Linked DNA regions of Homo sapiens. The protein of the gene in region 5 interacts with the protein of the main gene of each other region in a pairwise test. Each region holds a gene or a part of one and is shown on either strand. Other genes may lie near its edges.

What was found.
Region 1: the proteins of TMEM106C (region 5) and GOSR2 interact in binary tests that used the Homo sapiens proteins (3 or more experiments, as listed by UniProt).
Region 2: the proteins of TMEM106C (region 5) and SMAGP interact in binary tests that used the Homo sapiens proteins (3 or more experiments, as listed by UniProt).
Region 3: the proteins of TMEM106C (region 5) and SEC22A interact in binary tests that used the Homo sapiens proteins (3 or more experiments, as listed by UniProt).
Region 4: the proteins of TMEM106C (region 5) and TMEM97 interact in binary tests that used the Homo sapiens proteins (3 or more experiments, as listed by UniProt).
Region 6: the proteins of TMEM106C (region 5) and TMEM218 interact in binary tests that used the Homo sapiens proteins (3 or more experiments, as listed by UniProt).
Region 7: the proteins of TMEM106C (region 5) and BNIP3 interact in binary tests that used the Homo sapiens proteins (3 or more experiments, as listed by UniProt).

What each region holds. Positions count from the first base shown.
Region 1 is NC_000017.11:46,933,160-46,936,659, forward strand, and holds part of GOSR2 (Golgi SNAP receptor complex member 2), read left to right. Parts: intron 1-1,869; coding exon 1,870-2,010; coding exon of another isoform or gene 2,011-2,121; exon of another isoform or gene 2,122-3,500. UniProt on the Homo sapiens protein: Involved in transport of proteins from the cis/medial-Golgi to the trans-Golgi network.
Region 2 is NC_000012.12:51,263,916-51,267,415, reverse strand, and holds part of SMAGP (small cell adhesion glycoprotein), read left to right. Parts: intron 1-3,500. UniProt on the Homo sapiens protein: May play a role in epithelial cell-cell contacts. May play a role in tumor invasiveness and metastasis formation.
Region 3 is NC_000003.12:123,243,443-123,246,942, reverse strand, and holds part of SEC22A (vesicle-trafficking protein SEC22a), read right to left. Parts: intron 1,045-3,500; coding exon 929-1,044; intron 1-928. UniProt on the Homo sapiens protein: May be involved in vesicle transport between the ER and the Golgi complex.
Region 4 is NC_000017.11:28,322,200-28,325,692, reverse strand, and holds part of TMEM97 (sigma intracellular receptor 2), read right to left. Parts: intron 191-3,493; coding exon 46-190; intron 1-45. UniProt on the Homo sapiens protein: Sigma-2 receptor which contributes to ameliorate dysfunctional cellular processes and slow degenerative progression by regulating cell functions including cholesterol biosynthesis/trafficking, membrane trafficking, autophagy, lipid membrane-bound protein trafficking, and receptor stabilization at the cell surface.
Region 5 is NC_000012.12:47,966,596-47,969,378, reverse strand, and holds the end of TMEM106C (transmembrane protein 106C), read right to left. Parts: intron 2,697-2,783; coding exon 2,647-2,696; intron 2,172-2,646; coding exon 2,118-2,171; intron 1,247-2,117; coding exon 1,150-1,246; 3' UTR 501-1,149; downstream 1-500.
Region 6 is NC_000011.10:125,101,627-125,105,126, forward strand, and holds part of TMEM218 (transmembrane protein 218), read right to left. Parts: intron 1,184-3,500; 5' UTR 1,108-1,183; exon of another isoform or gene 1,040-1,107; coding exon of another isoform or gene 1,011-1,039; intron 726-1,010; exon of another isoform or gene 692-725; coding exon of another isoform or gene 616-691; coding exon 506-615; intron 1-505. UniProt on the Homo sapiens protein: May be involved in ciliary biogenesis or function.
Region 7 is NC_000010.11:131,967,184-131,969,553, forward strand, and holds the end of BNIP3 (BCL2/adenovirus E1B 19 kDa protein-interacting protein 3), read right to left. Parts: intron 1,387-2,370; coding exon 1,341-1,386; 3' UTR 501-1,340; downstream 1-500. UniProt on the Homo sapiens protein: Apoptosis-inducing protein that can overcome BCL2 suppression. May play a role in repartitioning calcium between the two major intracellular calcium stores in association with BCL2.

The DNA.
Region 1 (3,500 bases), on a different chromosome or scaffold from region 5:
CTTTTTTAGGCCAAGGATGATCGCTTGGGATTATTTTGTTTTTTGCCAGCCTGGCGTGATGCTGTGCACACCGTCAGTTCTTAATAAACATTGACTTGCCAGATGAAACTTCTTCCTGGTCATTCTACCATATGGAGCTATAATACATTTTTCTGAGAGATAATGGCCCATCAGCCATACTGTTTTAGATGGGAGGGTAAGAAAGATTTGTATGTGAATGGCATTTCATAAGTGCTAGTCAAATTACTGAAGAGAAGTCTCTGAGTCTTTCAAACGCCAGCATCTTCTGACACACTGGGCATTAGCTGCATGCAGAAAACTAGTTAATTCAGGCACTAGGAGTAAAGCACATGATGAAATTAAAAGACCTGACGCCTATCTGTGAGGAGCTCCCCTGTTAGCAGGGGCAGTTGAAAACACGTATGTGCAAAATGATTCCAAATCTGAGCAGCAAAGAAACAGTGGCATAACCTTTTTTTTTTTTTTGGACAATTGAAACTGGAATTTAGGTGGTAAAAACAGCACTAGTGGAGCAGGGCACAATGACACACGCCTGTGATCCCAGCACTTTGGGAGACCAAGGCAGTGGATTGTTCAGGAGTTCACCATCCTGGGTGACATGGTGAGACATTGTCTCTACAAAAAAATATAAAAATTAGCCGGGCGTGGTGGCGTGAGCCTGTGGTCCCAACTACTCTCTGGAGCCTGAGGTGAGAAGATCACTTAAGCCTGGTAGGTCAAGGCTGCTCTCTATCCTGGGTGACAGAGTGAGAGCCTGTCTCAAAAAAAAAAAAAACACGAAACAAACCCCAGCACTACTTGGCAGGAGAGCTTGTGATTGGCAGAAAAGAGAAGGGAACGCTCTCACAGCTGGCGAGGACTTGGCTCCTGCCTATAGTCCACTTTCAGAGCAAAAGTAGAGCCACCAGGATGGGCGTTGGTGTTTCCCTCTACAGTGTGGGTAACAGGGCAGGCCCTGCGCTCAGTACCCACATTCCCAGCTCCACTGGACTTCCAGCTCTGTGATCACTGGACACACTTCCAGCTGTGTGATCTTGGACAAGTTATTCTACCTCTCTGGGCATTTTTTCATCTATAAAATGGGGAGGCCTGTGGACAGATTCCTTGAGCACAGGAGTTGGAGACCAGCCTGAGCAACATGGTGAAACCCTGTCTCTACCAAAAATACAAAAAAGAGAAAGAAAGAAAGAAAAAAGCTGGGCATGGTAGCATGCACCTATGGTCCCAGCTACTCAGAAGGCTGAGGTGGGAGAATTGTTTGAGTCCAGGAGGCTAAGGTTGCAGTGAGCTGAGATCGCGCCACTGCACTCCACCCTGGGTGACAGAGGGAAACCCTGTCTCAAAAAAAAAGAAAATGCAGAAGCACAGCCTCCTCTATCCTTAGTTAACTCTCAGTCTACTTGGAGAGGTAAACTATAGATAAAATAGCTAAAGGACACGAGCAAACATTTAACACTGCATTAAGGGGAAGCCATGGAAAGGAACATTTGGAACCAGCTAGGTTAGTGAGTAGTCAGAGAAAGCCTTTAGGAGACACCCAATGAGGTCTTGAAGGAATAGCTTTTCCTAAGAGGAGATCATGATACAGAGACAAGTATCGTTGGAATGAACGATACTTGTGGAGTGGAACTCATTTGGAGAGTGACAGATCTGAGGAAGTTCCTCTTCTGTGTGGACAGAGGCCACCCCAGGCCTTTGCTTTGCTTTTTCTTATCCATTAGGGTCCGCTGATTCTTTCACCAGCCCCTCCGGCTGTTCTGGCTTGGCCTTGGCCAAAAGACAGAGCAGTGAGACCCCAGGAACTGACTGATAAGCAAAGTTAATCAAGTGCCTGTGTTTCTTTCACAGGACTCTGACACCACCATACCAATGGACGAATCACTGCAGTTTAACTCCTCCCTCCAGAAAGTTCACAACGGCATGGATGACCTCATTTTAGATGGGCACAATATTTTAGATGGACTGAGGACCCAGAGACTGACCTTGAAGGTGGGGTCCCTGCTGGGGGACAGAGAGAAGGCCTCTTGTTTTAGCCTCATCCAACAGTTTAGTAACTGTGTTTATATTTTGATTACGTGTCCTCAAATTGTGATATTTTGATGACAAGACAGAGCCCTTGAGTTTGGGATCCTTTCTGTTGGAGTTGAGTTATTGTGAGCCTGAAAGTACCCAGTTCCTTTGCCAGTGCTTGAAACAAACCATGAAGTGGCCTCTCTTAGGATCCAGGTCTTTTCCCATTTACTGAACTTATCATGAAAGTGAGTGCTACTACGAGGGGTCCAATCACAGGCTGAGAAATTGTGTTACAGAATCTACTCTTGGAAGAATGAAGACGTGGCTGTCCTTTGGTACCTCGCTTTAAGGTGGCTTTCCCTTAGGACCCCTACTGTGGACTGCCTTATAACTAAAACCTTTTGTATTTTAGTAACTGAATCCCCACTGTGCAGTGTTAGGGCTGCCTGGTTGTTTGCAGTAGATTAGAGCTTTAGAAGCTTCTAGAGCTTCTAAAGCCCGTGCTGGTGATCCCAGCGACTCTTCACTCCCTAGCCTTAGGTATTCCTAGAAGCCCTGACCAGTTGGCACTGCTGAGACTCCAGCCCCTGGGAGTGGTTTACAGAAACATTACACAGACTCTGATGTCAGTCATGATGTTTCAGCCTCTGCCCTTTTCCTGTATCAACCCTGATGGATAATAGGGCGTGGGTTCTGTCTGTTATCAGGGTGTGGTCCCCTGTGAATGAAGCACTCCCAGCCACTGAGCTGTGAGAAACAGTCACTCGGAAGTGTGAGCTTTATCTTAGTTTTTGTTGGATCATGTTGAGTCTGTCAGCTCCACAGGACTTCAGTACGTTTCTGAACAGTCCCTGCCATCTCTACGGGGGAGAGGGTCAGGCAAGCTGCAAGTGACACTCACCTCCTGCTGACAGTTGCAGTGTCTCAGATGGCCTGGAAGGGTGGTCTCCAGCAGCCTGCTGGGCGCTCCCCTTTCATGAGAGCCACCTGCAGTGACCTGAACTGATACATGTTGATTAGTCTGCCCTTTCTTTAGAAAACTGCTACTCTCCTTTTCATATCTCAGAAAAACAGTAGAGGCCTTTTAGGACCAAACTCCATGTCACACTGATGAAGAGCCAGTGGGGGTTAGAGCGTCCTGTTAAGGCACATGCTAACTTCCCACTCAAGTCTGGCAGCGCTGGGGCATCAGCACACCTCTTGCCACCCACACTGATACCAGAGGGGAAGGCTGTGAGGTGGCTGGGGGTTGAGACTTGAGGTTTCTAACTTTCCTCTGCACACCTGTGGCTACCTGGTGTTTGTCTCTTGATTCCCTCCACCTGCCTCACACCCTGCCTCCGTCGGGATTTTCCACCTACACCATTCAAAAGGAACATAGGAGAGGGCATGAAGGGGCTAGGCTGAAGCACTCTGATGACTGGGGCCAATTTGTGGCTGAAAATGAATACATTTTTTGAAATTTA
Region 2 (3,500 bases), 3.3 Mb from region 5:
GCCCTTGAAAGACGGACAAGGTTCATACAGGCAAAGGGGCGCAGCAGGTATCTTAGAGAAACGTAGAATACCTTTTTCGTGTGTACCTGCTCTAGATAAAGGTAGAATACCTCATACCATGTGTGAAGCTACAGAGACGATTTACCCTGGAGGATGTTCAGGAAGCGGGTGGGCAGAGGACCTCCAGAATAATCCTGCCCACAAGGGAAAAAAGGTGATACCTTGGCAGCTAGCTGAGGGATTAGAACCTTGGCAAGGGGGAGCTGTTTACATTTTTTAAATTTTATTATTATTATTTTTGAGACCAAGTCTTGCTGTGTCACCCAGGCTGGAGTACAGTGGCTTAATTTCGGTTCACTGCAACCTCCGCCCCCTGGGTTCAAGCAATTCTCCCACCTTAGTCTCCCTAGTAGCTGGAATTACAGGCGTGCGCTACCACGCCTGGCTAATTTGTATACTTTTAGTGGAGACAGGGTTTCGCCATGTTGGCCAGGCTGGTCTCAAACTCCTGGCCTCAAGTGATCTGCCCTTCTCGGCCTCCCAAAGTGCTGGGATTACAGGCTCATGCCATTTTTTCTTTTTTAAAATTTATGGTAAAATAAACATAGTACAGGTATTACCATTTTAGCCATTTTTTCGCAGACAATTCAGTGGTAGAGTAGTCCCCGCTTATCCACAGGGGATTCATTCCAAAAACCCCAGTGGATGCCTGAAATCTCAGATAGTACTGAACCCCATCTATACTGTGTTTTTTCCTGTACATACATACTTATGATAAAGCTTAACTTGTAAATTAGGCACAGTAAGAGATTAACAATAATAATAAAATAGAACAACTATAACAATATACTGTAATAAGAGTTATGTGAAAATGGTCTCTCTCACTTAAAATGTCTTATTTACTATAGATCTTAGAAACCTCAGTACACAGTTCTTTTTTTTTTTTTCTTAAGTCAAGAACTTTCACCTTTTCACTTAAAGGAAGCACTTCTTGTTGGCATGTCCAAATTGCATCACTATTCTTGTGCTTTGGGGCCACTGTCATGTAAAATAAGGGTTACTTGAACACAAGCGCTGTGGTACTCTACTAAGCGTTTATAGCATGGACACAAAAGGATGATTCACTTTCCAGGCAGGATGGAGCAGGGTGTGAGATTTCATCACGCTACTCAGAACGGTACATAATTTAAAATGTATGAATTGTTCCTTTCTGGAATTTTCTTTTTCTGTTAAATTTCTATTTAATGTTTTCGGACTGCAGTTGACCACGGGTAACTGAAACCTAGGAAAGCAAAACCGCAGATAAGAGGGGACTACTGTTGTTTTTTTTTTTTGAGACGGAGTCTCGCTCTGTCACCCAGGCTGGAGTGCAGTAGCGCCATCTCAGCTCACTGCAAGCTCCGCCTCATGGGTTCACGCCATTCTCCTGTCTTAGCTTCCCGAGTAGCTGGGACTACAGGCGCCCACCACCACGCCCGGCTAATTTTTTGTATTTTTAGTAGAGACGGGGTTTCACCGTGTTAGCCAGGATGGTCTTGATCTCCTGACCTCGTGATCCGCCCACCTCGGCCTCCCAAAGTGCTGGGATTACAGGCCAGTGCCTGGCCTGGGGGGACTACTGTATTAAGTAATTCATGTTCCTCACCACCATCCATCTCCAGAACTTTACCTTCCCAAACCGAAACTTGACACCCATTAAACACTGATTCCCCATTTCCCTGCAAACACCGTTCTATTTTCTGTCTATGTAAATTTGACTGCTCTAGGTACTTCATGTAAGTAGAATCATACAATAGACCTTTTGTGTCTGGCTAACTTCACTTAGCATAATATTCTCAAAGTTCATCCATATTGTAGCATGTCACAATTTCCTACTTTTTCAAGGCTGAATAATATTGTTGTATGTGTATATTACATTTTGTTTATCCATTCATCTATGATGGACAGTTGAGTTGCTTCCACCTTTTGGCTATTGTGACTGATGCTGCCATAAACATGGGTGTACAAATATCTTCTTGAGACCCTGCTTTCAGTTGTTTGGGATGTATGCTCAGAAGTGGAATTGCTATATCATGTGGTAATTCTGTGTTTGATTTTTTTGAGGATCCACCATATAGGTTTGCACAGCAGCTGCACCATTTTATATTCCTACCAGCAATGCATAAAGGTTTCAGTTTCTCTACAACCTTGCCAACACTTGTTACTTTCTGTTTAATGGTAGTCATCATATTGTGTGTGAAGTGGTATCTCATTGTGGTTTTGATTTGCATTTCCCTAGTGATAGTGATGTGGAGCATCTTTTCATGTACTTATTGACCATTTGTATATCTTTGGAGAAATGTCTATTCAAGTCTTGTCCCATTTTTTAGTTGATTTGTTTTGTTCTTGTTCAGTTGTATATTTATATCCTTTAAAAATTTTTTTTAAAAAATTGATCGTTGAATCAGTCCTCTCTCTCTTTCTCTTTTTTTTTTTTTTTTTCTGGCGATGGAGTCTTGCTCTGTCACCCAGGCTGGATTGCAGTGGCACCATCTCGGCTCACTGCAACCTCCACCTCCCGGGTTCAAGCAATTCTCCTGCCTCAACCTCCTGAGTAGCTGGGATTACAGGCACACGCTGCCACACCCGGCTAATTTTTTGTATTTTAGTAGAGACGGGGTTTCACCATGTTGCCCAGGCTGGTCTCAAACTCCTGAGCTCAGGCAATCCGCCTGCCTTGGCCTCCCAAAGTACTAGGATTACAGGCATGAGCCACTGTGCCTGACCTTTTTTTTTTTTTTTTTTTTTTAAGAGATGGGATCTTACTCTGTTGCCCAGGCTGGAGTGCAGTGGCACAATCCTGGCTCACTACAGACCCAAACATCTGGGCTTGAGGGATCCTCCCACCTCAGACTCCTGAGCAGCTGGGACTGCAGGCGTGCACCATCACGCCCAGCTAATTTTAAAATTTTTTGTAGAGATAGGGTTTTGCTATGTTGCTCAGGCAACTCTCCCGGCCTGAAGCCATGCTCCTTCCTCTGCCCCTGAGTTGTTGAGATTATAGGCGCAAGCCACCTCACCTGGCTGCATTCTTGATCCAGCGAGTGACATGAGTGAAGTAGTGATTTAGGACAGTCTCCTATCCACTGGGTCCAAGCAAGTGTAAGTTCAGAGACAGCAATAGACAAAAGAATAGAAATCACAGATAGGAAGAAAGCTTATACTTTAAATGATGGGATCACTAAAGGCCAGCTCTTCTCTTCTACCCCTGTCTTGCATTTCTCTTCCCCCACCTTCCCACCTATTCCTCCCTCACAGTCTATAAAGACTTCCTAGAGAAGATATCCTCCAGGAACCTTGAAAGGAAGGGCCACATTATGACTCCTGAGCCCTGGGCACTTCTGTCTTTGTGGGCTCCTCCTTCACTTAAAAAAATATTAAAAATCATATTTTACAACTGCATCAGTGTAAGGAAGAATATAATATAATATAATTAATATTTATAATTAGTAATTGAATGG
Region 3 (3,500 bases), on a different chromosome or scaffold from region 5:
TGTGATGTCATCTGCTGTTGGCTTTACATGGCTAAACAGATGCAGAAAGATACCCTCTGAGGGTTCCCCAAACTAACAGCAATTTAAAAACAGAATATAAAGTGTGCTCAGTGGATTTTTACAAATGGTATTCTGCACTTAATGCTGACCAAAAAAAGAGGACTGATTCATAATGTGAGAGTGTCAAGAGTTCTTCAGAGAAAGTGAATAGAAATAAGGGAAAGGAAAGCTGTGCAGTCTCAAATGTGCTAAACTTAAAAAAAAATTTCAAAAAGTTTACAAAAAGCATAAGAGAAAAAATTAGTATATTCTGATAGCTATAGCTTCTGAAAGGAACTCCACTTGAAAATGTAATAGTTAGCAATATCTGAATAAATTTGTGGTTTTCTAGGAAGCTCAAGTTTTAAGAAGCCACTAACAAAAAAAGAAAAAGAAGCAGATGAACTAAGTAGGGAATACACAGAAGTGGAATAAACACAGCCCACGTGTGCCCTCTTCATTCTTCCACTGCTCTCTGTCTGATCAGATCTTTCCAGGACCAGTTCAACTCTCCTCCACAAAACCTTCCTTCTCCAATCCTGATTATACTGACCTCTCCCCCTTCCCAACTCTGTGTATTTGGCAATTACTTTCTTGCCTCCCCAGTTCAACTTTCAGTTATGAGACTGCAAGGCCTATGTCACACACATCTTGGGGTCCCCAGGGTGCCTATAAATAGTGCCTCCTAAAGAGCAGATGATAAACATGTGCCAATGGAATCAAAGAAGCCAACCAGTGTTTTTAGAAGGAGGCTAAAGCAGATATAAAAAAACATAGATTTTGAGTATGCACTGTAAATTATACTAATACCCAATCCAATTCAAATCAATTATGTAACCAGTAGAATGAAGAGGCACAGTCACCTGAAATTGCAAAAATAGCACAGTACCTGCAGGAGACTTTCTATAGCATGAAAGCCTCGAATTAAATTCAGAGCTCCACATAAAAGACTAAGGATAAATCCTACAATCCCTGACAGAGTTGCTGGTTCCAGTCGCTGGTGAGCTGGAAAATAAAAGAAATAGTTAGAAATGAACACCAATACCTCACAAAGATGAACTTAGGTAAAACAGAAATTCACTGCTCAACTTAAATGGGTCAAGCAGATACTTCATAGAATTATTTAACACCATATATTCACAATTAAATACTGTTATAAAATGAAAAATGCTTGACAACATAAAAGCTTCATTTCCCTGAAAAATTAACTTATTTTTCTCTTTTTCCTTTTTTTTTGAGACAGGGTCACAATCACAGCTCGCTACAAGCCTCAAACTCAAGGGCTCAAGCGACCCTCGTGCCTCAGATTCCCGACTATCTACGATTACAGGCACGTGCCACCATGCCTGGCTAATTTTTTCTTGAATTGTTTATAGAGACAGAGTCTCACTATGTTGCCCAAGCTGGTCTTGAACTCCCGGCCTCAAGTGATCCTCTGACCTTGGCCTCCCAAAGTGCTGGTATTACAGGCATGAGACATTGCATCTGGCCTTTCTCTATGTTTTTAACAAAGACATGTAACTTGCATTTGGGATAGACAGTGCTAAGGGATGCTCACAACCGGCAGTAAATCATTTAGAAAAAACCTTACTGCATAAATATGTCTACTATTTGCAGGTAGGTGAAAGTATTTGTAAAGGTGACTTTGCTTGGAAATTCATTGCATAATCCTACTTTTTCTGAAAATGCTTAGGAAACATTTTAAAGTACAAACATAGCTTACTTTTAAGCAAAACTTTGCCTTATCTGGGTTCTAGGGCTATAAATATCACTGGATACATGTGAAAGCTCATATATAATCAGCAATCTGAACTCCAAAACAGAATGGAGTCTTATAGCTATGAAGTTCCTGGTCCTCTGAATAACACTGGAAGGTAAAAATGACAAAACACCAGCTGAATAAGTGACCATTTTAGTTTCATAAATACATTCCCTTATCTTCCAGGGCTGCAGCAGCACAAAAGTTATACAATAGCTTCCCTTCATCATCATCTTACGCTTAATAGAATTAACAACAGGGTCTACATGAAAACACATAACTAAATACATAATCATCTAGACCTCAAACAGGAGACAGAGGGAAAGACAACAGAACCACATTTAGAGTATTTTATTTAAATCACTGAAGTGTAAACGCCCTAACAATTAAGTTAATGAGGTGGAACATTAATATAAGGGCGGGTTTAAATCTCTGCAACTTATATTCAGCCATTATAGCAGAACATCTTCCCTAAACAGTTATAAAAACACAAGAATCTACATATCACAAAAAAGTATTTATTCCCCAAGTTCAGCAGAAAGTGCTTATATAACATTTTCTTAAACTTCTCTGGTGCCCAAGCTGCCTGCTCTCAATCAATTTCCTTGATATTGTAATATGACAACAGAAAATTAAATGTCACTATTCAATATTGCTTCCAAGTGTTATATCAGTAAAGAAAAAAAAATTCACGATTTAAAAATCTATCTAATTCGTCTATACATTTAAAGGCATAAAAGCCTTTAAAAAGCATAAGTCTCCTTTAACAAGAACACAGTACACCTTTGCTGAAGGACAGCTGGCGTTGTGCCAAATCACTGTGGGGAAGAAATTCTAGAGATTCCCCCACTTCCGCCCCCACCCACTTCCCAGGTTCTGTGGCTTGTTCCTTGAGAAGTTATCAAGAGAATACTCCATCTGCCCACAACATAAGAAGGTGACACTTCTTAATAATTTCTCATTTTAACAAACTGAACTAGATATTTAATCACATTTTAATGTATTAACTATTTGTTATTTTTTTTACTTCAGTAAAACAGATTTTAGATCCACTATTATCCAAAAATGCTTAATTTGGCACCATTCTAGGTACTATAATATTTGGTGTAGAATGTTTGTAACAATAACAAATAAGAGGCAGTGTAGAAAAACAATAATTTTGCTGAATCCAAAGCAGTGTCATCTGGTCAGTTTTTGTTTTGCTTTTGTTATTATTGCCTTCTCCTATAAAGTCTTTTCTTTAGTCTTCTTGAACCCAAGGATGGCATGTTGATAACAAAATTAAATGTTTCTGAAAATGTACCAATGGTTTATGGAGACTCTGCAAAAGTTCCTAAAGAAGTAAGAATAAACCCCTTAGAACCAAAGGAACCAAAGAGCTATTGGTTACAGTAAATTAATATATTTATTCAGTAAATACTTTCTGGCATGGTTCTGTGTAAGATGCTATGCTTTCGAAGATACAAAAATTGAATTACATATTCTGCCCTCAAGGCACTTCTAGTCTTTTATAAAAGAGATAAAACAGATAAGTATATGAAAGTAATAAGCATTCTAAGCTAAAAGAGGCAAGGAATGATGAAGTGGAAAGATAAAGTAGGGGGAGGGTGGTCTAGAACCAGGAAAGAGCTTTGAAGATAGATAAAATGTAGTCAGGTACAAAGGGGAAGAAATGCATTCCACGCAGAGAAAAGAATGTGAA
Region 4 (3,493 bases), on a different chromosome or scaffold from region 5:
ACCTGATTTCTGAGTAAAAATGGGATTTTCCCACCATTTACCAACCTTTGAGGAAGGCATACGTTGCAATGGGAAAGAAAGGCAGCTGAAACACAAGCTCGCAAAACAGAAAGGACTTAAACCAGGCTGGGGGCTCCTGTAGCAGTGGGTCTTTGAACTCCTTAGCATACCACTTCAGCAGGTTTCTAAACTGAAAAAGAAAACGATCATGATGAATTACAGCCACTTGCCCTCAACAGGCTCGGCGCTAGCTCATTTGAAAATACACTGGAGGAGCCTGTCATTAATTAGCCACCCCCCACTACCCCGGCAGCAGATGGCATGTCCAGCTGGCTTTTGTGACACAGCCTAGGTGGTCATTTAATAAAAACTTACTATCCCTAACTCAAATGTTCCCTTCTCTGAAATTTTCTCAACTCTTCCAGCCCCTTCTTTGTGTTACCCAGAATCTGTTCATAATTCCAAGATAACACATCCAGGTGTGTTGGCCACTGTCAGGAGCAACAATAAGTATCTGGCACTTGGTAGGCACTCAGGGTGTTCGCTGAATGAACAAATGTGACATTTCTGTCAACAATATCATTCTTTGTTTAAAAAAACAAATACACATGAAAACCATCCTGACACTTTCCCTTTTGTAATGGCAACTACACACCAAACTCCTCCAAAGGCCAGATTCCCTCAAATGCAGAAATGAATTGAATTTCCCTCTTCTTTTTGCGGGGTGGGGGTGGGAGTGAAAGGGGAAGTAAATCTAACCTCTGTGGCGATGTAATTTTGGACACTTTAATTCCAATATGACAAACAAGTTCCTTAACTCCCCTAATTCTAATTTTTGGTTTATTTTAGGAGACAGGATTTTAGTGGAAGAACAAACTCTGCCCCAAACTACAAACTACCTAGTAGCTTCTTGGTTATGCAGGGTTTTAGCGTCTCAGTTCTAGCTTGGGCCCCACGCTTGTAATTACCTTGTCAAATAAAAAGGATGCGGATCCATGCTGACCTGGCTACAGGCAGAGAAAAGAAGCAGAGTTTAAGGCTTCCCATCTTGGGCTTTTATAGGAGCCCAAAGCCTAGTGCTCTTGGCTCTATGTGGACTACTAAACGTTTGTCACATTTAACCTCCTAGATGTGGCGCTGCCCTGACACACAGGCCTTCAAAGACAAATAAGTCTTGATATTATGATTAATAAAGGCAACTCCAGGGTAAGAATTTATCTTACTTACAATGGAAAATCCAAGAATATTTTTCCTGTTAATTTTTAATCAAAAGATAAAGCCTCGCTATTGTGAAATAGAAGCCCCACTGCTGCAAGAGCACTTTAAGCAAACATCCAGAAACAAATATCCTGTTAGCATATTATTAATTTCAGAAAGGCTTTGGCTAGATAACCAATTTATTGACCAAAGGATATCCAAATTTGTACTTAATTTGAAATTGAAATTCATAGCAATGCCCTTCGCTTCCTTCTAAGCACTTTTCTGGATGGGAATGTGGTTTGAATAGGATTGAATTGATAAGAAACACAAAGGCTAAGTCACTGTCCCTCTCCAGGGTTCTACTTCCTCATCTGTAAAATGAGCAACTTGGACTAGATGTTTTCTTAAGATCCCTTTTTTGCTTTTTAGATTTTTAAAAATACTGGATGACACTACCTGCTTTAAAAGATTGACTATAAAATTATTATTATTTTTTTTGAGACAGTCTCTGTTGCCCAGGCTGGTGGAGTGTGGTGATTTGATCTCGGCCCACTGCAGCCTCAACATCCCGGGCTCAGATGATTCTGTCACCTCAGCTTCCCCAGTAGCTGGGACTACAGGTATGCGCCACCAAGCCCAGCTAATTTTCTGTAGAGACGGGGTTTTGCCACATTGCCCAGGCTGGTTTCGAACTCCTGGGCACAAGCGATCCTCGCTTCAGCCTCCCAAAGTGCTGGGATTACAGGTGTGAGCCACTGCACCCGGCCTGACTGCAAAATTTAAGAGGCATTCTGGGCCAGGCCCGGTGGCTCATGCCTATAATCCCAGCACTTTGGGAGGTCAAGGCGGGTGGATCACCTGAGGTCAGGAGTTTGAGACCAGCCTGGCCAACATGGTGAAACCTCGTCTCTACTAAAAATACAAAAATTAGCTGGGTGTGGTGGCTCACGCCTGTAATCCTAGCAACTCTGGAGGCTGAGGTTGCAGTGAGCCGAGATCGAGCCACTGCACTCCGGCCTGGGTGACAGAGCGAGACTCCATCTCAAAAAAAAATTAAAAAAAAAAAAAGGCATTCTGGCCATTTGAACTTCACTTTCTATTCAATTTGTTTACAACCTCTCTGATCCAACTATTTCATAAACTGAGGCAGACTTGTACAGCACTTTAATTTCTAAGGCCTACAAGATGAGATCAGCAAAATTTAAAAAACAATCACCCAGATGTCGTAATAATGAATTATCATAATCGTAACCAACCATCTGCCCACAGTCATATACCTGCCACCTGATGCCAGAATGAGGCTGGGACTAATTGTGAGTAGGAGAGTAGAAAGCCCAGGCACCTGGCAGATGGGTGAGGCGTGTAGGACCTGGGGTAGAGTGCCTGGCTTTAGGCAAGGCCTTTAATCTCCCTACACTTGTGTCCCCATCAATAAAATAGAGCCAGTAATAGTGCCTACTTCACTATTGGTAAGAGAGTGACTTAATACATGTAGTCTTTAAAATAATGGCTAGCACATAATGATTAATTGAATGTAATTAATACATATTTGGAGATATTCAAGTTTAATCCCATTAAAATCGCAGCTCACGACTGGTCATTAAAAATTATTAGTTATGGCCTCCCTACCAAAGGTAATGAAACTGTTTCCACTTATACCTGACTCTATTTGACTCAACCCACCCTTGTTATACATAAAAGATTCACCTGGCCTGCACGCACGATCTCTAAACCAGTGGTTGCTACTCACCAATCTTGTACTTCTATAATTTAGAATGGGAACACAGACTGATTTCAGAGCCAGATGCTCACTTGTTTTTCCTTATTTTTACCAGAAGCAATGTTACCCAGCTGCAAATGATACTACAAAATGCTTCCCATCCTCTCCTTACCATGTTCTTATCCAAACTAAATTCTTACTGTTTCATAATAAAATAAGAGTTTTTCCAGGCCAGGCGTGGTGGTTCACACCTGTAATCCCAGCACTTTGGGAGGCTGAGGCATGCAGATCGCTTGAGGTCAGGAGTTTGAGACCAGCCTGGCCAACATGGTGAAACACCATCTATAACAAAATATAAAAATTAGCCAGGCGTTGTGGCAAGCACCTGTAATCCCAGCTATTTGGGATGCTGAGGCAGGAGAATTGCTTGAACCCGAGAGGCAGAGGTTGCAGTGAGCCGAGATTGCACCACTGCACTACAGCCTGGGCGACAAGAGACTGTCTCAAAAACAAAATCAAAAAAAAAAAAGAAAGAAAAACAAAAAGTAAATAAAAAAATGAGTTTTTCCAAGC
Region 5 (2,783 bases):
ATTAAGCAAATATTGAAAACCAAGCTATGGGAATGGAGACAAAAACTAATATACAACCCCAGCCACCACCTGTTGTTGTTAGGGTTTCCTGAGGTCCCAGTGCTATGGGAAGAGCTGACTTCTAACACCTGACTACTCAAGCTTCTTAACTAGATTCTCTGCCATCCTGGGGCTGTAGCCTAACCTCTGGTGGCAGAGCAGGTGGAGATGACCCAAGAAACTTACAACCTCAAACCAGGATGTCTTATTCAAGACTGAATTCCAACCTCCATGGGGCACTGAGTGCTCTGTCCTGGAAGGGAACAGGGTAGCCCCCTGCCGCAAGAGGCAGATGGAAGAAAATGAGGCTGCTTGCTGTGACAGGAACTCATGGGAACGGGAGTACAATCAGGGTGCAGTCTCTTTCCTCCTATTCCATCCTGACCCACTTGGAAGGGAACTATTCTACGGTTCCCCCAGAGATCCCTACAAAACACCCAGGCAATCAGAGGAGACACAGATGAATCAAAAGCAGGGTTTATTTTTCTATCAAATCCCCAATCCATGTTCCAGCCAATGGATGAAGGGTGAATCAAGCCCCACATAGACTCTTGGTAAAAACAATTCTAACTTTCTAAAAAAAAAAAAAGCCAACACACTTTTTTCTTTCTTTTCAAAAAGCTCCCAGGCCTTTGGGAACAGCTGAAACAAATTCATATCCTGACTAGGTCTGTTTTCTCTTAGGTATTTGGATGGTCCCTCTCTGCTGCCACTTCTGCACAGATGAGGCACTGATAATGGCCTGCAGGTCACTCACAATCCTAGCTCCACATCACTCCATGGTTTGATAACCTAGAACCACGTTATGATTTCCATTTATAATGCCCTAAGAACAGCTGAAAAGATCTGTATTAAATTCTGCAAATCTTTATTGAGTGCCAACTATTTGCTGGGCACAGGCTAGGCACTGATTCTGCTGGTTCTGAGAAACATAAATGGTACCATAGGGAGGTGTTTCCTCCTAAGTGGCAGGAGGATGTTTGCTGGGAGTTAAGTGAACCAATTCCTCCTCTGCTTACACCACGTGGGGGTAGGTCCAGAACTCAGGCCTTGGGAACATATGCTGTGCTCTCTTCTACAGGCGCTGTGTGGAAGAACCAATAGCAGTTGTTAAATAGCTGTGGAATTTCCTCCACAATCCACATAGTGATGTGTCTCCAAGGAGCTCTGGGTCATGAGGCCAATGTATGAAATCTTCACTGAAGTTCTAGGGAAAAGAAAACCAAGAAGAATTAATTATGTTTGGGGGATGAAATAAGCCAGAAAAATGTCCCAGGAAATTTTTTGCAAGTTCAGAGAACAATACCCACGGGCCCCAGGCACATATCCTCATGGTTATGTAACCAGGAGGCCAGAAGATCTTTCCACTTTCACAGAGATACTGTGCCAGGAGGTGGCCTTCCAAACAAGGCTTCTCAATCGAGAATGATTTTACCCCACAGGAGACTTCTGGCAATGCCTGAAGACATTCTGGGTTGTCACAACTAAGGGATGGAGGGTTTACTACTGGGATCTAGTGGGCAGATGCCAGGAATACTGTTAAACATCCTATAATGCACAGAACAGCCCCCTACAACAAAGGTCTGGCCCAAAATGTTCGTAGTGCCAAGGCTGAGAAACTCTGCTCTAACCCCTCATATTTCATGTCTGCAGCAGAGTCTTGTCACTTGCAAATTTAACAGCCATGCTTCCAGAAAACAACCCTAAAGGTCCATGACATGTGGTAATTTGTGTGGCTAGAGAGGAAGTCTGGTCAAATGCCCAGTACTTAACATCTTGAGAAAGCTTTTCTGTTCATGACTGTCTCATTAGGATTCTGAGGGGATCAAGTGTTTAGTTAAACTAGACCCATTTTATGGAGAAAATGTTTGACTGCTCAGGGTGACTGGTGATTTGTGAAGGGCATGTGGACACTGTGTTTAGAGAACACCAAGGGTCTACTGTATCTGTGCCTGTGAGGCACAGGGTGTCCCCTCGGGCTAGGTGCCTCTGCCCTGTGGTCACACAGGGGCCTCCTGAGCAAAGGTGGTAGGCTCACATGGCCGGACAGGCCATCGGGATAGGGAAGAGAGACGCACCGCATGAAGATCACTATGTTGTGCACCAGGATCTCAGGTACCGTGCAGAAGAAGCTACCAAACAGCAAATATGGAAATAGTCAGTTTTTTTTTTTTTAAAGCCTCAGTAGAAGAGTGCAGAGTTACACTGTCCTGTTTGGGGTGCCCCCCTCCCCCTTCCGACCTAAGTGCTGCCAAGGCTTGTCAGCTCTCAGTCCCTGCCACTGTCATTTTCATCCTCCCACAGCGTCATACCACTTTCTGTTTTTTCAAACCCATCACATAAGTGCTGGAGCTTGGTAACGTTTTTAGTGGCTTAATGTTCTCTTTTAGAAATTCCAGCACTTCTGTCACATATCAAATAATACATTCTTCAAATACACACATAATAATAATACATTCTTCAAATAAATCTCAAGACATCCAAAGCCAGGGAACCTATAAGTCAAAAGCTGAGATCTAAGGCAGGACCAGGCCCCAATCAATGGAGTATGACTTTGAATCCCTTTCCTCCAGTAGAGAGCACACACAGAGAGAACAGTGTCCTTACTACACATAGGAAAACGGTCCTCCCATCTCGGCCTTCCCGGTAAAATTCACCTGAAAATAAGATACCAGAGTTGGTCTGTGGCCAAGCAGGCTTGACACAGAACAGTATTATTATTAGCAATCCAAAGACCTTGGGTC
Region 6 (3,500 bases), on a different chromosome or scaffold from region 5:
AGAATACTTTAGAAAATTCTACAACTCTCTGCTTCATACTAACACTGTCTTGCCAGAGTGCAACTCTAGTGTTTTCAGAGTCGGTTTATGGCCTAACCCTGTTCTGAAGGCAATGCCTGATATAGAAAGCAGGCCCAACTCATCAAATGTTGCTTTCGTTTTCCTGGGTCCAGGGCTAGAGCCTCGGGTACTGGACCAAGCCTCTGCCATAAATCTGAACAATTCATAAACACATACACATACAGCCTCAAGAAACTCAATAAGCAGTGAAAGCAGAGTTTCTTGCCACAGTTAGAACTCAAGAACACTACTTCCTTCTCCTCCCATCTCTGCTCCAGAGCATAAATAACACAGTTAGTGTTTATAAAAAGAGGTTAAAATGCAACTCATTCAAACTGCCAGTAATTACAAAACTGATCTCTTAAATTCTAAATGTTTAGTGAGCATCAGCGATTTTGCCTCTAATTGCTTTACCTAGGACTCCCAGTTGGACAGAATGCCTTACCTCGCCGCCCCGGAGGCTCTGGACAGCAGCACACACAGCAGCAGCACTGCCACCCAGAGCAGGGCTAAGATGAACACGCCCGCACCGACTCCGAGCACAGTGCCAGCCATCCCGCGGGGAGGCAGCGGCGGCCCCCCGCCCTGCGCGCCGCACGATCGAGTGTCCTCTGTGCTCCAGTGCAACACACTCCCGTGAAAGCATTCAGACAAATACAGAAAGCCTAAACTCATTACAGGTTATTTTTTGATGATCAGTGTGTTAGGAGGATTACTCAGTACAGGTCATTAATTTTCAGAAATGTCCAGTCCCAGAGTCCCTTAATGGAAACTGGAAATTTAGAACCCAAAGCCTTTCTCTTTGGTGGGGACTGAGAGGGTGTTTTCCGCTCTGCGCTCAGAAGTTTTTTCTGAGTGTTTCCTTTCAAATTTGGTACCTGAGTTCTACTTTGACCTCTTCCCCCAGCCCACGGGAGAAAGCTGAACCCTCTCTGAATATAAAACCCTACCTAAGAACTGGTAGAAGACACCAGGGCATGGGAACTCCAGGGCCAAAGCAGAAGTTGAAGCTCTCAGGTTAAATCCATGGTGTGAGCTGTGACTCACCAGGCAATGGATCACAAGACAGAAAGTTCCCACTCTGTTGTCGAGTTCTTATTCAAGAGGATGAAAACTCCCAGTCCTTAAAGAAGAGGAACAGCCATCACTATTTTTGAACATTCACTGTGTGCTAAGTGCCGTACAAACATATCTCATTGAATCCCGGAGCGAAGCTTCTGAGAAAGGTATTACTATAGCCATGTTACAGGATGGGTAAGTGAGATATAAGCGCGATGGGGTATCTATTAGTTTCCTAATTAGCAGCTCAAAATAGAAATTTATTTTCTCACAGGCCAGCAATCCAAAATAAAGGTGTCAGCAGGGCTGTGCTCCCTCCAAAGGCTCTAGGGCAGGGGTCCCCAACCCCTGGGCCATGGACTGGTACTGGTCCATGGCCTTTTAGGAACTGGGCCGCACAGGAGGAGGTGAGCAGCAGGCAAGCCAGCCTTACCACCTGAGCTTCGCCTCCTGTCCTATCAGTGGCAGCGGCATTAGGTTCTCACAGGAGCACGAACCCTAGTGTGGACTGCACGTGCGAAGCATCTAGGTTGCAGGCTCCTTATGAGAATCTAATGCCTGAAGATCTGAGGTGGAACAGTTTCATCCGGAAACCACCCCCCTGCATCCCCCTGTGGAAAAACTGTCTTCCATGAAACCAGTCCCTGGTACCAAAAAGATTGGGGATCAGTGCTCTAGGGGAGAATCTTTCCCTGCCTCTTCCATCTTCTGGTAGCTCCAGGCACCATTCACTGGCTTTTAACTCACAACTCCAGTCTCTGCCTCCATCTTCCCATGGCATTCTCCTGTGTCTGTCTTCACATTTTCTGTCTCTTATAACGGTACTTGTCATTGGATTTAGGGTCTGTACAAATAATCTAGTATTATCTTGAGATGCTTAACTTAATTAAATCTGCAAAGACCCTTTTGTCAAACAAGGTCATGGTCACAGATTCCAGGGGTGAGGATGCGGACATATATTTTTGGGGACCACCATTCAACTCACAGCAGAGGAACAGCACACCACACTACCTCTCCTGGTTTTCCTTTTCAGCATTGGAGACAAGTCTTAAGCAAACACATTCCTCTAGGTTGCTGGTTTTCTTTACCCTTATGGTTTAAATACCACGAAAATATTAGCTATGAGAAGTTATAAAGTTATTGGAAAGGAGGGTCTAAGCATGAACTGGTAAAAAAAATACGTTTATTGAATCAACATTTATGATGTTCCCACCATGTAAAGCACTGCGCTACAAGCTGGGGATGCCAAAGGTGAATAAGATATCTTCTGACAGAAGCTCAAGGTCTATTGGAGAACATTGTCCTGAAAACAAGTGTCCATATTACATTCTGATTAATGGTAAAAGCGAAGTGCAGTGGGAACTGCAATAGTGAGAGGGGCTTTACAAAGGAAATACTCTGCACAGGCACATTTAGGAAAGAATCAGAGTGAAAAGATGACAGAGTGAGGGGAGATGGGACCTGGGGCCCACCTGCATGCCTAACTTCTCTGGGGAGCAGTCTGCCCTCATTAGGGCCACATGGGCGCCATCTCGGTCACTCTAACACGCCCGGGGTTTCCCCATCTCTGGGTCTTTGTACTTGCTGTTTCCACTGCCTGGAACTAGCCCTCAACCCCAAGCACTCCTGCTACTATTTGTAGGACTGGCTTTCCTCAGCCTTCTGATTTCTGCTTAAATGTCACTCTTCAGTGAGGTCTTCCCCGAGTGTCTTCTCTAAAGTAACCCCTCAAACACTGACTCTCCATCACTCTATTTCCTTCAGAGCATTTTTCACAAAACTAGTTAATATTTTCATTTATTTGTTTACAAGTTTATTTTCTGTCTGTCCAACTAGAATAGTAAACTCCACGAAGGCAGAGACCTGATATCTTTCTCACTGTGGTAACCCCAGTTCTTAGCACAGAGATTATGCACAACAAGTATCTGTGGGAGGAATAAATGACACAGTGCTAACAAGTCCACAAACATCAGGTGAGGGAGTGAAAGGATCATATGGAGTTTTAGAAAGATGACTGTAACCTCTGGTCAATATGCTGGATGGAAGTTAACAAGGGAAGTGCCTCATACAACAGCAAACACATAAATGTTCAATAAAATAGAACAAGAAGAATTTAGTACACAGCAGAGCTCGAAAGCAATAAAGAAAAATCATTAAGTGCTATAAAAAAATGTAACTCAAGGCCTGAGCTGAGCCTAAAAGTCTACGAGGGTCCTGGTGCCTGATACAGACCTTCAGGGTGATTCTCTTCAGGGCAGATAAGGTCTCAAGCCCACGATGGCAAAGAACTAGCAATGAGAACAATGCAGAAAGCTGGGCCCTCACAGGATTGACCAGTTTTTGAAATAGGGTCTAAATAATTTGCTACTGACTTAGTTGGA
Region 7 (2,370 bases), on a different chromosome or scaffold from region 5:
GTTTCACTCAGAGTTCAGCCATTGTCATCTGTGAGGGGGACACGTGGTTGGCTTTGTTGTGTGCTAACTTTGATGGTGACCAGGGGGTTCACTGAGCTCTGTAAGGTGCTGAAACTCCACTGATGTTTGTGATGAAAGACAAACAGCAAACATATTTGCTCTAAAACAAAAACGGAATTCCCTTGACCATCGTGCTTCGATGATCTCAGACTATTCTGAAGTTAAATTATATAAAGGAATTCTGATGTCATGCCATCCACATTCTCCAAATGTAAGACTGAGAGATGACTGCTTCCAAGGTAGCATCAACAAAGATTTTTACAAATGAAAACGTTAGATTTAACACCCGAATTAAGCGTGGAAAGGTGAAACATCAAGGCGGCAGGCAGCCTTTCTAAAAAGTTTGCTGTAGGAAAGATAATGTCAAAATAGGGACCAGTCCTGGTTTCATTAAGAAGCTATCATGACGTCTGATTTTAAACCATATGTAAATACAGTAATCTGAAGGATTTGGCAAAGATTTATTTTTTTTTCCATTTCCAGTTTTTTAAAGTAGACACAGATTTGCTTAGAATAAAGCTGATTTTAAAAGCACACAAAAGTTGAACACAAAGGAGAGGATTAAATTCACCAATGCAGAGTGATAAAGAGGAAAAGATACTGAGTAGGTGCCTTCAGCAGAAAACTGATCATCCAGGGTGATCACCTAATAATCGGAGACTTAATTCCTTATAATGCAAAAGCAAGAAGAGTTTAGTGTACGAACTGTACAGCTGAGTTTGTAGCTCTATCTTGGTTTCTGTTGATTATGAACAATTAGCATAGTTATATATAATCTTTCTTTAGTAGACAACCTGCATCCATTTAAATTAAATAATACTTTCTACAATAGTGTGATATATAAGGCCACAATATTTATTTTGGACAAACCCCTTAAAGTAGCGATTTTATTATCAATGTTATTCATTCTTTTGAAATATAAAGTACTTCAGCTGAATTAAGGTTGCAGATAATTTTTAAAATACAACACACATCATGACTAGTATATTAAAATTATTTATATTCAGATATTTATATCTAATATCAAATGAAAATTTACTACCAAATTTTCACAGTAGACATTAATCAGTCTGACATGCTTATTGATCCCATAGGTGTAATTATAGATCAACATGATTTTAGTGTCTATTCTTTTATTTTACTAAATTAGGAACGCAGCATTTACAGAACAAATAAACACAAGTGACGTGGCCACCCCAGGATCTAACAGCTCTTCAGTGAGCTATGTTGCAAGCTCAGAAGTAATCCACTAACGAACCAAGTCAGACTCCAGTTCTTCATCAAAAGGTGCTGGTGGAGGTTGTCAGACGCCTTCCAATATAGATCCTTCACAGAAAAATTATCAGTAGTTAATGTATCTTGTGATTCACAGGAGACTGTGTTACAGCTGAAACAGGGTAGCTCACTGTGGTTAGAGCTTATGCAAGGGGACTGGTGATTTTATACCCATTATAAAAATTTTGTAATGAATCTATCTGTGATCTTTTATCTAGTGTTTTATCAATATGTATTTTGTATTAATTAACTTAGAAAACATCAGATCGTATTCTTACATAGAAGGATCACCAAACCGAATGCTGTTTCCACACAGAAAGCTTCTGCTTTGTTCCAACTCAGTGCTGGGGGAAGTCACCTACCAGGGCAAGATGGTGTTGCTAGTTCATCACCACCAGCCTCACCAAAGCCAACTGCTTAAAAATGAAGCCCCTGCCCTCATGTGGTTTAAGTTTGGTAGTGGGAGAGATGTCCCAAACTAAAGATGCAGGAGTGTCAGAAAAGGCTTTTCGGCAATAGAGAGGCTCGCTCCAGCTGACCAGCGGGCATCACTCCCGGAGGGAGGAGGATGGGTCTCCAGGAAAGGGCAGAATCGGAAGCCTGGCTGGCCTGGCCTGTGGGCGGTGGTGTGGTGGGCACTGTGAGCGCAGACAGTGCTGCAGCAGCTTTCGGGGCAGATTTTATCGTGTGGTTCTGAAAAGCAGCTGAGGGGGTGTGGGTCGCCAGTGGCAGCATCAGGCTCTGAAAACCCGGGCAGGACGAAGGACAGTAGCTGGGAAGTAGTGGCTGCAGAAATCCATCCTGAAACGAAGGGCTTAAACCTTGTATTTAAAATGAGGATCCCGAGGCCTTGCCCCCAGAGTCTGCTTGACAGTTCTGGAAAAGGCTCCAGAAAGCAAACTGCCTGGTGATGCTGATGCAGTCTGTAGGTCTGACTCCCAAAAGCACCAGCAGAAATGAAGGTGACGGGTTATGGGGGGGACGTGAGAATGTGCCCAAGAGCTAGGAGAAAGCCACGCACACGGGAGGGCGAGG